2 separate regions of the Homo sapiens genome follow, and region 1 is linked to region 2. The links come from fine-mapping of genetic effects on gene expression. Tissue or cell type: whole blood. Region 2 holds a variant in brackets; the other region holds the start of a gene. All regions are shown on one strand. Distances are from middle to middle.

The links. PIP is the estimated chance that this variant, and not a neighbour inherited with it, causes the effect.
Region 1: it holds the start of UBL3, and the variant in region 2 is fine-mapped to the expression of UBL3 in whole blood (INTERVAL, PIP 0.94).

Annotation. Positions count from the first base shown.
Region 1 is chr13:29,845,844-29,853,951 of GRCh38, reverse strand. It overlaps UBL3 (ubiquitin like 3), which reads left to right and starts at 3,335. Exons shown (of 5, transcript NM_007106.4): 1 at 3,335-4,440. The coding sequence starts at 4,414. RefSeq lists silencers at 3,180-3,289, 3,560-3,859 and enhancers at 3,420-3,489, 4,160-4,229, 4,700-4,769.
Region 2 is chr13:29,936,225-29,944,332 of GRCh38, reverse strand. LINC00544 (long intergenic non-protein coding RNA 544) reads right to left here and starts at 7,802. Exons shown (of 5, transcript NR_033889.1): 1 at 7,632-7,802; 2 at 7,052-7,131; 3 at 6,324-6,427. The variant G/A (reference allele first, on the strand shown) is at 3,410.

The DNA of each region.
Region 1 (8,108 bases), 90 kb after region 2:
GAATGGAGATGGCAAAGGCTGTCTCTGCTTCTTATGGCATTTTCCTACTCTCTGATCCTTTGTAAATGACAGAGCATGGCATCATGAGATAATCAACTAAAGAACCACATGATAAAAGTTTACTGGTTTCACAGAAAGTAATTCTTCCATTTAGTTATTTTAACTTCATGAGGTTCCTTGAGAAGATCCTTCAGGAATGATCTTAAGATGGGAGCCATTTTAGACACTTACATGGTAGATGGGGGAGATATATTTGTTAACAAATGTATGAGATATAGTTTACATATTATAAAATCCACTCATTTCTCAATAGCTCTATGGTAGAAACAATTGACGTGTCTATCCATGGATAAATGAATACATAAAATGTGGTATATACATACAATGGAAAATTAATCAGCCATACAAGGGAAGGAAATCCTGACATGTTATAATATGGATAAATCTTGAAGACATTTTTCTAAGTGAAATAAGCTAGCCACAAAAAGACAAATACCATATGATTCTATTCATATGAAGTACTCAGAGTAGTAAAAAAACATAGAAACAGAAAGTAGAATGGTGTTTGGGAGAGACAGAAAGGGGAGTTGGTGCTTAATGAGTTCAGGGAGCAAGATGAAAAGAGTTCTGTGAATGGATGGTGGTGGTGGTTGCACAGTGTGAACGTACTTAATGCCACTGAACTGAAAATGTAAAAAAGACTAAGATGTTAAATTTTATGTTATGTGTATTTTGCTACATTTTAACAAATAAAAAATTACTCATTTAAAGTGTACAATCCAGTGGTTTCCTGTGTATTTACAGAGTTCTACAACCATCGCCAAAATCTAATTTTAGGTTGTCATCATTCCACCTTCCCTGTTCCCCCAAAATCCCTCCTACCCATAAGTAGTCACTTAGGGAAGATATTTTTAACAGGCCATCGGTGTCATGCCCTATTTTTCCAGGACTTGACACTCATAGACTCTTAGAAGGGACCTTAGAGATTTAGTTCAAGCTTCTCAGATGAAGAAATTGAAACTCAGAGAGGCAAAAGGTCACATAACTAATTCGTGGCAGAGCCAGGTCTTTTGACTTCCTATGAAGTTATTTTTCCCATTACAAAAATGCTGTGTCATTCACTTTCTTCCAACTGATGCTGACAATAGATTCCTGGTGTCAAGAAGATGCTACCTTTTCCTGCTTGGGACAGCTGAACTCCTTTCTACAGCCTCCCACCTCACCCGCCTGAGCTGGGAAGCAAAGAGAAAAGAAAGAGTGGAAAAATCTGCAACTGTGTCCAATAATGTTACCTCATGCCTTAACAATGTTAGGGATGAGTTATAATGAGTTTTATTGAGAATAATGTCTCAGCCCCTCTTAGAAGAGTAATTGGAAACACAGCGACTTTTGAAAGACATTGCCTTTTGTAAAGGTGGCAGTGGTAACCTGCAGCAAACAGCAACTCTTGCCTTTCTACTTACAGTGGCACTTAGGCCCGGCAGTGCCATGGCCAGGCAGTGCCATGGCCAGGGAGGTCATTGGATAAAAGTTGGAGTCAAGGGTATGGTGGAGGGACTAACTCTGTGAGTTAGAGCTTTCAAAATGTGCTCCAATATTCCTTCTGAGCTCATTGGTCAATTGAAGTATTTTCACCTGCCCTTATTTCCTGGGGGGCTGGTGTAGGGGTAGGGGGACTCTGTGGTTGCTAAACATTGCAAATGAGCAACCAAGTAACAAAGGCCATGGAAAATCACGTAACTATGGACTTGGAAATATCTAGACAAAGTCCTGAAGCCTAATCACAGTGAGATTTGGGCCTCTCTTCTCTTCTGGCCTTTGGTTTTTCGGAGAATTTGATCTATCTTCCTCAGGGTGATATAGGCCCTTAGGAGTGTTTGGAATTTCTCCACCCAGGCTACTCAAGAGGCAGGTACTCTAAATGTCCTGTGGGTTTCCAACTGATGAGAAACCCAACTGGAGAGATTGCTGTGGGGAATCACGTAGGCTTCTAGACAATGAGCTCCCTGAGGACAGTGACTGGATTCTGCCTCTTTTCAACAGCCCTATAGACAAGGATGTAATAACCCCCATTGCCAACCCAAGACCTTGGCATTTCTGCCACATGATGCTGCTGTTCGCTACAGTGACTCATTTTTAAACTCCTAGTGCCTAGCAGAGTGCCTGGCACATTTGTTTGCTGAATGAGAGAATGAGTAGTGACATTTCATATCAAATGATGCATTATTATTTACAAAGTGATTTATTTCCCATGCATGAACTCATCCTCATAACTACCCCTACTTTACCCCGGAAGGTAGGCAAGACCATTTTACAGATGAGGTCACACAGCTGTAGGTTGGAGAGGTGGCTTTCAGACTCTAAATTCATTGGCATTTATATATAGGCATCATATTGAGACTGCCCTTTCTAAAGTACTCTGTCAAAGGACTAAGAGATATGAATAGGGATTCAGATGTTGACCTCAGATTTAGGAACAAAATGCAGAAATCACAAATGTCCATCTGAATGGTGTCTCAACAATGGCATTATTTTCTCCTATTTGCTAATCACTGCAAGGCATATAGGTTTTCAATTACATTATGAGTTACATAGAATAGAATTTAGGGTCCAGATGGGTAAACTGGTGAATCCCCATGAAGTTTGTAGTAGCTATTTCCTGATACAGATTTGATATAATAACACTGTTGTATGTAATACAGTTTTGGTAATTTCAGTTAAGTAGATTGTAGCTTTATTGCCCTGGGTCTTCAAGGAAACACATGTTCAAATATTCTCACTGCTTAATGAGATCCTTGTTCCTGTTGAACTTATGTGACCTTATTGGAAATCAATGATTGCTTTTGTTCTTCAAAATGTAATGTTGAGGAGACCTAGATGAAATCACTCTACAAAATGCATTGAGATTGCAGGATGTGGAGAATGTGCTGTAATTAAAATGAATGATTCTGCTTGGAGGTACAGCATATTTTAGCTCTGTGTGCATATCGTGCATAAGGGAATTTCTCTATGCAGAATTATTTTCTCCCAACAATTCTCATGATCACAGCACTCCTGGTAGCAGGTATCACTTAACTCCTGGGCAGCAGCTTGTCCAAAGCAAGGGAAAGGGAGCTTTCCTTTCCTCGCAACTGTTGCTATGGGGGGCGTGGCTTCGGAGCTGGGTGAGGAGGCGTTCGGCGGCTCCCTCCCCCCCCCACCCTCGTAGACTACACTTCCCGTGATGCTCGAGGGAATGGTCTCCGTGGTGACGCACTTGGTGTCCGCGGAGGGAGGACGAGGACGGGGGCGGCGGCTGCTGCGAGGGGGGGCCCGTGCTCTCCCCGTTTCCCTTAGTCGCACTCAGGCAGCCGCCGCCGCCGCCGCTGCCGCCATGTTGGTTTGAGAGGCGATGACAGGAGGCGGCCGCGGCGTGTGGGACTGAAAAGTGAAGGAGGAGGAGGAGAAACAAAGCTCTGAGAGGAAACCATTCCCGGGCTGAGGAGAAGGAGGACCCGGCCTCTTCCGGGGACCAGCCGAAGTCGGCGTCGCCCGGAGCTCGCGAGGCCGGGGAGGGGAGGGGAAGGGAAGGCGGAGACCGGGGAGGCGGCGGCGGGGAAGGCGGAGGCAGAAGAGGAGTGGCGAGGAGCCGGAGACGATGCGCCCCGACCCCAGCTGCTGTCCGGAGGCGCCCGCGGCCTGAGCCCAGAGGGGCTGTGGAGTGTCCCGGCCGGCCCCGAGCACCCCCGCGCTGTCGGTCCCCCGCTCCGGTCTTTCGCTTTGGCTTCCAACTAGTTAAATGCCCTTGAGCGCGGGTTTCCGCGGCCCGGCTCTTCGCCCCCGCGGCGCGAGTTGAGCCGTTTCCCCGCGCTGTCCGCGCGGGCGCTCCGACAGCGGCTCTGCAGGGTCCGCGGCCAGCGTCCGGCCACCGCTCGGCCGCCACTCAAGGCTCACGCGTCGATGTGTAGCTACATAGTTATCTGTGTACATCCACGCTGGGGCATTTTTCTCCTGCTTAATGAGGACTTGACTCGGGAGCAAGTGTGAATCATTGCCGGGGCTGGGAAAGGAGGAAGGCGCATTTAACCCCCTCCCACCCCTCTCCATGTCCGTGTGTCACTCGGCTCGGTCCACCTGGCGCGGCCGGTCCTGGGGCTGCTGCTGCTGTTGACGACGACGACGACGACGGGGGCTGCCTCTGCTGTCCCGGGAGTTTCCTCCTGCTCCGGCCACACAGCTCCTGGGGATTGTTCCTCTTCGAACCAGAACCTCGGCCTGACCGGCACTTTGGCTCCAAAATAACTTTATTTTTGGGGGAGAAAGCACATCACGAACCAGTCAAAATCGTGGTTTATTTCTGTAACGTGAAGACTTCTGCTCTTTTTTCTTTGTTTGTTTTTTTCGTAAACATCTGGGTGTATATCAAACGGCAAGATGTCCAGTAATGTCCCGGCGGATATGGTAAGTGACGGATAAGTTATGACACTGATTTAATTGTGGTTTCCAATCTTATTTAATCGGAAAGACGGCAGGCGTGGGGCGAAGATTTGCTGGGGACTGTCGAAAAGCCACTGTGCTGAGCGATTTGGAGAAGTTGGAGCTTCTGGTTTCCCCCTTTTAGGAAGTACTGCTTTTAATATGGGTTCTCTCATTTGGTCGTGTTTTCTAAAGCATTGAAGATAGTGGAGAAGTAGGGAAATGTATCATGGTAGCTTGAGGGGACAAAACATCTCCCTCTTCGCTAGAAGCCTCCGAACACTAGTATTTTAACGTTTCTGAAAACGTCAGGGACAGTGGGCAGAGCTGAGGACGGGTGTCCCTACGAGAGAATAGGTAGGGAAACGGGAATCTTGCTTTATGACACAGACGAGATCGTCATTGCAGTAGGGACGAACTTGATATTTTTCAAGAACAGGGATGCACATCTCTTCAAGAAAAAGTATGTTAGAATTTGCTGTGAGGTTTTTGAAATGTCTGAATACGGATGGCAACAGAAATATAAAGATATTTTGGGATTTTCAGAAACGTAGGCTGACCCTGTATTGGTACTTACAATGAATATTCCAGGGCTTTTTAATGCCAGATATTTATTAATAGTAGATTCCATATTAGACATAAAGCTAAGGAAACATAGTATTGAGCCTCGATCACTGAGTGTTGAGAACTTGAAACAAAAAGTACTGTTGTTTATTGACGCCTTTCTTTGTTTTGTTTATAAAGGGTAAGGTTGTGAGTCGGTTGACTAACAGTAACCGTGTAACCTTACAGTGCTGGGGCTGGGCTTGTGTGAGTGTGAAGTTACATTTTGCAGTCCTAAGGACAAACATAATGCATTTAATTACCAGGAAGAGGAATAATCCTGTTTATGAAAGAATTGAAGTTAACGTAGTTGTGCTCACATATGTTAACATTTGAGTGTTTGTGTATTCAGTGGAAACAAATTGAACTTTGCTGATGATTAAATTTTATTTTATTTTTTAATTTTAATTTAATTTTAATTTAATTTTTATTTTTTGAGACGGAGTTTTGCTCTTGTTGCCCAGGCTGGAGTGCAATGGCGCGATCTCGGCTCACTGCAACCTCTGCCTCCTGGGTTCAAGCGATTCTCCTGCCTCAGCCTCCCAAGTAACTGGGATTACAGGTGCCCACCACCACACCTGGCTAATTTTTTTTTTTTTTTTTTTTTTTTTTTGTGGAGACAGGGTTTCACCATGTTGGCCAGGCTGGTCTCAAACTCCTGACCTCAGATGATCCACCCATCTTGGCCTCCCAAAGTGCTGGGATTACAGGCGTGAGCCACTGCGCCCAGCCTGCTGATGATTAAATTTTAAAACGCCAGATGTTTCTAGAGGAGCAAACCTCATATACAGATTTTATAACAAAAATTAAATGATTCTAAATGGCTTATTTTGACCTTGGTTTAAAGGAATTTTGCTCTTGTTTAATTTCCCATTGAATGCAAAGGAAACACAGTGTTCTGTCTCTGGGGGTGGCCACATAACAGCTTTACAGTCTCCTTCCTGAGTCCTAAAACTCGTGCGTTGTCCTTTTAGTTTTCGCTTCTCTTCTGGTGTGCACACATGAAATAGCCTCCTGCCTGGTTAAGTACGGCTGGACAAGCTTTCCTCCATACTGCTCTTGAAGTTGCCGGGAGCGGTCTCTAGACAGAGCTGGGAAATGCTATTTCCCTTGTTTGATGAGTGATCTGTGGGTTCATCGCCTCGAGCAAAGATTTGCTCTCTCGAAAGCCTCCATTTTATATCATCAAGCACAGTGCAAAATAGGTTAACCTTAAGTACCGTCTATTCTCTCACAGACGTTGGAATGAAATAGATGTGTTATTAAAACAGTGCCGCTACTTCCTTTAGGTCCAGTGAAGAAAAGCTGGAATGTGCGTGGCATCAGTCACAGATTGAGATGATTTGGGAAATACTGTTTCCAAGTCAGAGAGAGGGTTTGGAGGCTGATGTTAGGATCAGAGGACTGGGAAGTAGGAGCAGGGTTTTATTAATATCTGCAATTATAAAATATAACAGTTTATCTGTTTGAGACTGGATGTTAAGGCCTTGATTCTGTGGTGCTTTGAGATCCTTTGATTAAAGGTGATATGCAAGGGCAAAGCAATATTATGTAATAAATATATAATGCCCTGATGATGCTATTTCAGAGTGGGTACTAACGTACAGCACAGGTTTGATTGTTCTGAGTATTTTTTTATGTCTTGTTTTCTACTGTTCAACTGGTTAGAGGTTAAGATTTTCTCTTTGTGAAAGTCTTTTAAACGTTCGTTTATTACTTAACTTTGCATTTTTGCTTAAGAAGTCTATCATTTGCTATGTGCCTAGAATTCTCAACTTTTTGAAATATAACATGACAAATACTGGTTAGAAGTTGTCGATTAAATGCTTCATGATTATTAAACTCTTAATACCATGAATTGACAATTGATTTTAGTTTACATTCATGACAACAATTTACCGCTCCAAACCTTGAAGAGCTCCTCTCACCACTCCCACAGCAAAGCTAATGACATATATCCCTTGCAGCATAACTCTAAATTGATCAGGATATGTACTGTTAAATACATTTTTGCTAGATGCAGTAAAATGTTAAGCTTTCTCCTAGTTGACAGTATGTGCTGTCAACTGTGCTGAAACAAATGTTACACTTTTTTACTTTTTGGTGGTGGTGTCATTTCTATTGAAGTCAATCTTTTATATGTTAATGGTGCTTGTCAGTTGTATAGGAAAATCCTGTTGGGGAGATGGGATGGAGTGGTGAAGTTAACCCCTATCATGTTTCCAATAGAGATAATTTATTCTCGAGCTACAATAATTGCTAAATCAATTGATGTTTTTGGTAAAGTCTTTTTATGGCCGTGATTATGACTCACTTTAAAATAGATTTTTTAGCTTTGGTTTTTGTTTTGTAGGTAGAACTCCCATTTAAAATTTATTTTTGAACATCCAGTAAATTTTTGTGTTTAGCATAAGGAGTCTCATTTTTAATGATCCAAATGTCAATTTTTTGGATGAGGGAGTGGCACCCGTAGTGAATGGATTTGCTGTACCCTTTAAAACATAATTTGTAGTTGGTACTTTTACTACATTCTGCAATATATATGTCCTATAAATATTACAAGTGTATTTACTTGAAATGTTGGTTTTTCTTTGCTAAGAGTGATTGAGTTTGAACTAGATTTAATAACATCTTAGTGTAGTAACTTATTTGTGAAAAAATCTGAAAATATCTCAACAGAATATCATTATAATATATTGTATTTAAATGATGTATTTATTTATTTATGTTGCAGCCAAGATCATAGTTCATGATGCGGCTATATTCATTGTTTATAGTTGCAGTGTGACTTATGTTAACCACTGTAGGTTTTTTGCAAGAAAATATTTACTGCCTGTGTTAGTAATAAGGCCTAAGACTGGGCAAGCAATGGTAATTTTGTTTTCTGGATTGGTAAAGTTATCAAGAAATACATTCTTGTTTTTATAAGAGTATTGTATACAACATTTAGGCTACTATTTAGAGCTTTGGACTAAAATTATACTTTATCTATTACATTGAAAACTTTAAGAGAGAAATTGACAGTGTGAGAATAATGGCAAAGCAATTTT
Region 2 (8,108 bases):
CCGACCACCAGCCAAGGGCACCCTCTCCCTCCTTCATCGCTGAATGCTCCTGGTCAGCCAGAAGGAGGGGTGTGAAGGCCTCAGCAGGTTGATGCCTGCACCGCCTCCTTCACAGGCTCACAGAGAAAGCCCCTGCTCTTCAGACTGGGGAAGCATCTTCGTTCCTCTTTATTCATCTTCCCAGTACCCACAGAGACTAGCAGAGTGTACTGTACAAAGAGGGTAACAGATATTTGTAGAATATTCCTTGAAGAAATGAATGGAGAAACATCGACAGGGTATGGTTCTAATACGCTCACATTGACCTCTTCCACCAGGTTTGAAGATATTATTTCCCTTTCCTCTCAGTCCCAGTGGTCCTGAGGCCCAGGTTGGAGCCACTGTTCTCTCACCCACCTGAAAGCTGACTCATCAACTTCCCTGGATCCCAGACATGGATTTTCCCTGAAACCAACTCTTCCTGTCTTGGGAAGCCGGCTCAGGTCAGTGCCTGACCGTTTCCTGGGAGAGGCTCTGGTAAGGCCAGCCTCGGCCTTTCCTTCATCTACTTCTGCTCCGAGAAAGTTCCTCATTCTTTTTTCTCTTTAGACATTACGTTATTTTTCCTGCTAAGTGTTACGGTAACACATAGTAATCATAGAAAATTTGCAAAATAAAAGAAAGTATAAAGAAACAAACCAACGAAACCCCCCAATGATTTCTAAAGGGCCTGTGTTTCTAGTCCTTGCTCCATTCGGGTCCCCTCCTTTCTTCTGCAAACTTCCTGCTTGTAATCCTCTTTGTGGGAGGACTCTCACATTAGCATTTCAGGTCTCTTTATCTTTGGAGCCAAATATTAGCATAAGAATTAGCATATTATAACCCAATTACTTTTCAGTTACAAACAATCTCAACCAGATTGGGGTTATTCTTAATTTGCATAGTTTTGACAAGGGGGTGAGAGATGCAATGGGAAACTGTGGTGTTCTCAAGTAAACATAACAAAGGTTTGCTTTGGAGATGAATGTGGCTTGGAAACAAATAAAAAGATAAGACATAATGAGAGGATGTGGAGGCTTCTGCGATGGGTGAGTGCTGTTCTGCCCAGAGAACCATGGAATAAATGATTTCTCACCATCCCTTCCAGCCTCTTATAATGTAACATGGTTTCAGGAAAATAATAGGGCTTATCGAGAGAGTTCTCTCATAGCAGAACAGGCCAGCTGCCAGTTCCCTGTAGGTCTTCATGAAGTTTACCCAGGATCCCTGTCAAGGGAGACAGTGAAGAACTTCAGGATACTTCAGGAGACTCTCCATCCCCATCTTCCCAGGAAGCTGGGTGTCTCCCAGGACAATGCATCTAAATACCTACATAGATGGGCATCAGTGAGCTAACACATGCTTGGTCAGTGTAAGAGAATAACCAAATTGCCACTATTCCAGAATAGGCGTGCTATCTAATTACCATAAGATCCCAAGAATCTATTGCAGATCTACCATATGGACAGAGCTGTACTAGGTAGGTACAGCCTAGTTAGTGAATGCTTCTTAGGATCAGTATGAAAATGAGACCAAGAGAACTCTTATTGAGGGATCTGAATCAGATATAAACAGCAGGATCACTAGATTTTCTCGGAGAGGGCAAAGTGGACTTTCTAGTGTTATGCAAATGTTGGATATCTACAAGCTTTCACCCCCAGACTCCACAAAGCATGAGTGAGCACTGTAGATTTCACTAAACACTATGTTAGGGAGATGGAGACGAAGTTACAGAGCACAACACATGGTATTTCACTGTAAAATTTCTTATTAGACATCTCTTTCCTAGTCTTTGTTCTCAGCATTAAACATTTTCTCTTTATTTAACAACCTTTCATTGGTTTCAACCTCTGGTCCTGCACTGTACTGAGAGCTTCTGAGGTTGTGCGGAGCCAGGCACATGCCTGGGTGGGTGCAACCCCAATGACCAAGGAGCTGGCCAAGCTGGTTGAGGTGAGGAGATACCGACCAGGGAGAAAGAAGGCAGGACATGGGCAAAGGCAGAGATACCGTACTGGCTGTGGCTGTGCAGTGTCATGCCAGAAGTGACAAAAGATGAGACGTTGCCTGCAACTGTGAGGGAGCTTTGCCTTCATCTGTAGAGACTCAGAAGTTCATCAAAGGACTTATTTACTGGTCTGGTTTCCATCTTTACTTTTGTCTGCCTTGGCCTCCATGTGTTCTGGAAACGTATCAGTGATAACTTCTAGCCAAATACCTGTCACATATTTGAAAGCAATAATGTTTCGTTACTTGAGTTTTCCTCTTTAGCTTCAGTAGTTCTGACTCTTTAGCCTTTCCTCATGGGGCCTCTTTTCCATCATGAGTCCTGCCCTTTTGTTTGTGTCATTCTTCTCTGGATTGTCTCAAGTCTTTCCATGTACTTTGAAAAGTGCAGTAATCCAAATGGCATGTGGCTCCCTATGAGCGGGAAGCATAAGAAAATGACTTCTAGCTTCCCATACAATTTTCTCTTTAATGTGTTGTAGAATTATAATTTGTGCCCCAGAATAACACAATACGGTTGGCATGTTTTCCAGCTTGGAGTGGGTTATAATTTCTAACCATTCCCCCTATTTTTACCAGCTGGTCTCTAGACAGCTTATATGAATCCACATCCATTGATCTTAGTGTGCCAGTTAGCATTACTGTCCAGGGTCCATTTTGTTTTAATCATCTTAGTTTATATTTTACTGTACATCTGCCATAAATCCTGGATTTCTTCCCTTCTACCCACAGAAAAATCTGGTTCTAGAAAATAAGGTGCTGGGTGTCTTCTGAACATAGCTTAAACAATGCATTGTCTGCAAGCCTTAGAAGTAGCTAAAAGGCAAGCTCTGCGGATTATTTACAGGTGACTTATCAGTGTCTCAAATCTAAATTCTGATTATTATGCAATTCCCTCTTTTTAGGCTGTCATCATTTTTCATTACTTAAGGACTATCTCGGCTCTTGGGCCTTCACTAAATTGTTACTGTCAGGATTTGGGGAGTTATTTTGAAACCTATCAGCAGTGGGTGACCTCCTGGCATCCTGATTCAGAGTTTTCCATAATCCCCACTACTACAATTGTTAAATTGTTACCTGTGTAAAGCCTCCTCCTTTTTATAATTGAGTAAAATTAATTTCCTTTCTTCCTGGTGTAAATTTAGTTGATCTCATTTACCCTTTGTTAGGAAATGGTAATGTGTTGATTAAATTAAGGGCTTCACATGGATTTAGAATAGTTTTATGTGGGGAGGAGTTGCCGGGAGATTTTCTCAGAGGCTGATAAATAGCTAAAGAGAAATAGAGAGTTAACAGTGACATGAAGAGAGAAATACAAAGCTTTTTTGAATGTGCAAGCAGCTGTTAGCTTAAGGACATTGGTTACATATGAATTTTAGCTTTG[G/A]ATTGAGAGTTTTCTAGTGTAAAGTTCAAATGCTGAAGACCTCTGGGAATGGTGCCACCATTTTTCTTCTGTTTAATCCTAACTAGAAAAGGTAGGGGAGGAAATAGTGCATAGGGTTTTTTTTCTTCCCATTAAAACAAAAATTGGTGTAAAAAGGAGTGAAGAGTTATGGAGAAGGCTCAAATCATTATATGCAGGAAGATTTCATTCATTAGAGAGAGTACATTTAATAGAACAGTAACTTTTCTTTTGTTTTCGTGTGTGTGTGTGTGTGTGTGTGTGTGTGTGTGTGTGTGTGTGTCAGAGTTTCGCTCTTGTAGCCCATGCTGGAGGGCAGTGGTGCGATTTCAGCTCACTGCAACCTCCACCTCCTGGGTTCAAGTGATTCTCCTGCCTCAGCTTTCTGAGTAGCTGAGATTACAGGCATGCACCACCACACCTGGCAAGTTTTTGTATTTTTAGTAGAGATGGGGTTTCACTACATTGGGAAGGCTGGTCTCAAACTCCTGACCTCAGGTGATCCGCCTACCTCGGCCTCCCAAAGTGCTGGCATTACAGGCGTGAGCCACCACGCCTAGCCAGAACAGTAACTTTTCAATGAGCTTTCCCAACTGTCTCTCTGGTGATAACCCTGTCGGGGATCCAGGGCAAGTCCTGCCACCCCCATCGTATAGTGGGGGATGAGCTTGGGGTTCCAGAGTGAGGTAGAGGCTGAGCTAGAGGTGAGCCTGTGCACATCTTACTGTCAGCACCACCTTCACCCAGCGCCATCACCAAAGATCACATCAGTAGGATTCAGGATGGAGACCAAAAGAGCCAAGAGAAGGCAGTGAAGACATTGCATAATGCTTATTAGTGAAGGTAACCACTCTTTCAAGGCTATCTGTGTCCTAGTCAAGGCACTGGTGACACACCGAATAACACAGTGGATGCAGCCTGACGTATCCCACTGTGAGTGACACTATGAATGAAGGCTACGCTGAGAAATCTGAAAGGTGCAGTAAAGGAAAAGGGAGAAACTGGCAAGACAAAGGGGAATTCAATCAAGACGTGTAAGTGGCTCTTCAAATTTCATACACCTGACTGACCTAATGGTTAAAAACTCAACGGCTGTGCTTATTCATTTATTCACTGATATTTTAAAACAAAAGTATCTTGAGCACCAGCTGCATGGCAGGTACTGTAGCTGGAGGCAAGAGATCCAGGGAGCATGGACATGGGCCCTGGCTGGAGCATCTTGGAAGGACAGTGGAGGCAACGACCATGTGGGTTGGGACTAAGGTCTTGCCTGGTGACATCTGAGCTCTCCTCAGCCTCCAAGTCCTCTCTCAAAGCCACAGCTTCATCCTTCTGCCCTTACACCTCGCTGATTTGCCTGATACCCTCTCTAAACTCCCCTTGCACTATGCCCTGTGTCACATGCTCCTCTGTGATTTAGTTTTTAATGACTTTCCCTATTCTAGAGCATCCTTCAACACATCCAAAGGGCAGAAACAATGCCTTTTCCCGCACACGAGGCCTCCTCCATGGTGGGGAGTTTGTGCATATTTTCATTTTTTGCCAACTCATCGTCACAGATCAATCTCCCTCTTATTCATGTGTCCCTTACAATTTTAGTAGATCCTCACATCCCTAAGCTTGGATCCTTTCCTTTCAGAGGCTTTGCATACCGCATTTCCCTAACAACTCTATAACCACGGGGTGCTTCTAGGAGTTTTGGTCTTCCCTTTTTGAGGCTTGGCCAAGATCATAAACCAGACCTAAGGGTGCCCACCTCTGTCAGGTGAAGAGGACACAGCAAAGCCACCTAAAATTGTCTCCTCCACTGGTTTTTCACATTATCTGAACCTCCACTATCATATTTACTCTTGTCACAGTCACTGTGTGAGAAAAATAATTTTTTTAAGAGTGGAAATGAGAAGATGAAAAGGGAAAAGGAAAGCATCACAATGCCACCCTTTGAGCCAAGAACTTTATTTAATTTTTTCCATGTCATATGGAATTGTACGTAGTTTCAGGTTTTCTTTTAAAAGCCTTTTGGCTCTTGAGTCAGGCTAGAATCCTAGATATGAATCCCACCTCTGCTCATTACTAGCTGGGTGATTTGGGGCAAGGGGCTGAACCTCTCTGTGCCTCAGTTTTCTCATCTGTAAAATGTGATTAACAGCAGCACCTACCTCATAAGGTTGTTGTAGGATTAAATGAGTTAATACAGTAAAGTGCCTGGCACATAGTGAGCACTCAGAAAAATGCTGGCTGTTATGAGGAAAGCAGGATATCTGGGCAGGATTGACAAAGGAGTGTGGCCGCACAACCACACAGATTTCTGTCAATTGTCTACGTAATAACTGTTGCTTCCAAGCAGCTCTCTGGCCAAGCCTTCCCCTGGGGACCCGGGCACTAAGGACACGAGGAAGCCCAGTGGAAAGGCCAGGCCAAGGGAGCGCTGAGGTCTGGGCCTGGCTGAGCATCTCCATGAGGGGCCCTCCGACAGCAGGTGGGAGGGCGAGATCAGGGCAAAGGGGGCCTGTGAGGAAGAGGGGATCATTACAGAGAGAACCAAGAGGAGTACAGGGTCAGCTCAGCCCACTTAGCACCTTTGCACCTGCCGGCCCTGATGACCGGCCATGATCGTTCCATTTTGGGGCTTTTGAAGAGGTGGGGAGGTCCTGGGCCCAGCCAGGACGAGACTGGGGAGTGTTCTGCGGCTGAGTTTGGCTGTGTAATTAAAGCCCTGGTGTCTAGTGCCGAGAAGAAAAGAGAAAACAGCATTGGAACCCAACTGGCAGATGTGCTTGTTGTGCTGAGAGAAATTCACAGAACCTTGTGGTGCCATCTGGCTGAGAGCTGACTGTTTGCATGATGCAGTTCTCACTTAAGGAGGTGAAGCATCAAACTCCCTGGCCCCACCCACCTGCCTCTGCATCTGGGCAGCTGAAGGTAAGGGCACTCAGCAGCCCCGATGTAATGCCACATCCCAGTGTGCTCAGGAGGAAGCCACCAATCTTTGTTCTCTGCCTAAGGAAAGAAAAACAGCTAAAACAAAGCATTCTAGGACTGACCTTTGGTACAATGTTGGAAATATGAAAGAAATATAAATGTAACATTTTAAATTTCTGAAACGAGGAATAATTATCAATTTCATATACACAAAGTAAGCCCAGTAGGCAGGCCTACTAGAGCAGTGGTCTCCAAATTTTTTGGCATTAGGGACGGGTTTCATGGAAGACAATTTTTCCACAGATGGGGTCCGGGGGATGATTTTGGAATGAAACTGTTTTGCCTCATCCTCAGGCATTAGATTCTCATAAGAAGCACCCAACCTAGAGCCCTCACTTGCGCAATTCACAATAGAGTTCACGCTTCTATGAGACTCTTATGCTACCGGCTGATCCGACAGGAGGCAGAGCTCACGTGGTAACGCTCACTTGCCCACCGCTCACCCCCGGTTGTGTGGCCCGGTTCCTAACAGGCCACAGACTGGGACTGGGACCTGCCCGAGGCTGTGGGGTTGGGGATCCCTGTGCTAGAGGCTCTCAGAAGCATTCTCCATCTCCAGATAATATTCTGTCCCTCCACATGTGAAGGAGACACAGAGCTTTCCTGATGGAGCCTGGCAGGTCTGTCTGTCTTTATACACACCCATTGTATAGAGAAGTATTCTGGATCCAGGGTATATCATGATCATTGTCAATTTTCAGAACATCTCCTGGGCTGGTGAACTGTGGTTAGATAATAAAGAGTTGCTGGTGAAATGCCTCAGGGTGTGGTTAGAAAAAAGAAAGAAAAACAAGTGGTAATATAGGGTGCGGGGGGAGGTATGGGGAGGCTGGGTAACTGTGATTTTTAACTCAAGAAGGAAAAAGGGAGAGGAGAAAAAATGAAGACTCTATAGCTCATCTAGAGTGAGCCAAATTGGATCCCAAACACTAACACTTAATGCACTAAAAACTGTATAATTCAAACATCTCTCAACACAGAAGATGGGTACCACGTGTGTAACAAAACATAATTGAGCTGAGGTGAATCCCTGTCCTTAAAAGAGGTTTATAAGCTAATAGTGGTGATGAAGGTGAGGAAGACTCTTAGTTCCACTCAGAAAGTGAGAGGATCTGAATACTCCAGAAAAGGAAAAAGATAAGAGGAGAGATGAAATGAGATTGGCAAATTGTTGATGATTGTTGAAACTGAGCAATGAGTATTGAAAGGCAGGGATCATTACCTGACTCTTCTATCCAGGAGGCCGTTAGTGGACCAGGAAGTCAGGACAAGATCTGAGGTGAAGAGCTGGTGAGGAGTGAGACAGCTGCCAAGGTCCACCTTGTTCCCCTAAGGAGCTGAGCTCTTTCTCTTCCTTCCTTTTAGACAGGTTCATTAAAGCTGGCCCACTCCACATGACCTAGAAGGACTGGGTCAACCCTGAAAGGTTTGCTCCATAGCCCAGAATGACAACCTCTGACATCACAAATGCAGGATTGGAGAAGGCATAGTTGGCATGCAAGCCGTATTGATTTTTTTACAAATCAGAGCTTCATGCTTGCTGCTGAGAACATTTCACCGGGCCACGAAGCTGCTGCAGGAAGTTTTCAAGTCCTCTCCTCTACACCGTGACCTTAACTTAGAGAGCACTCTCAGCCCCTCCTCCCATCCCCCCGCACCTGCCCAGGTGGGCCCCACTGCTCTCCACACCCACACCCAC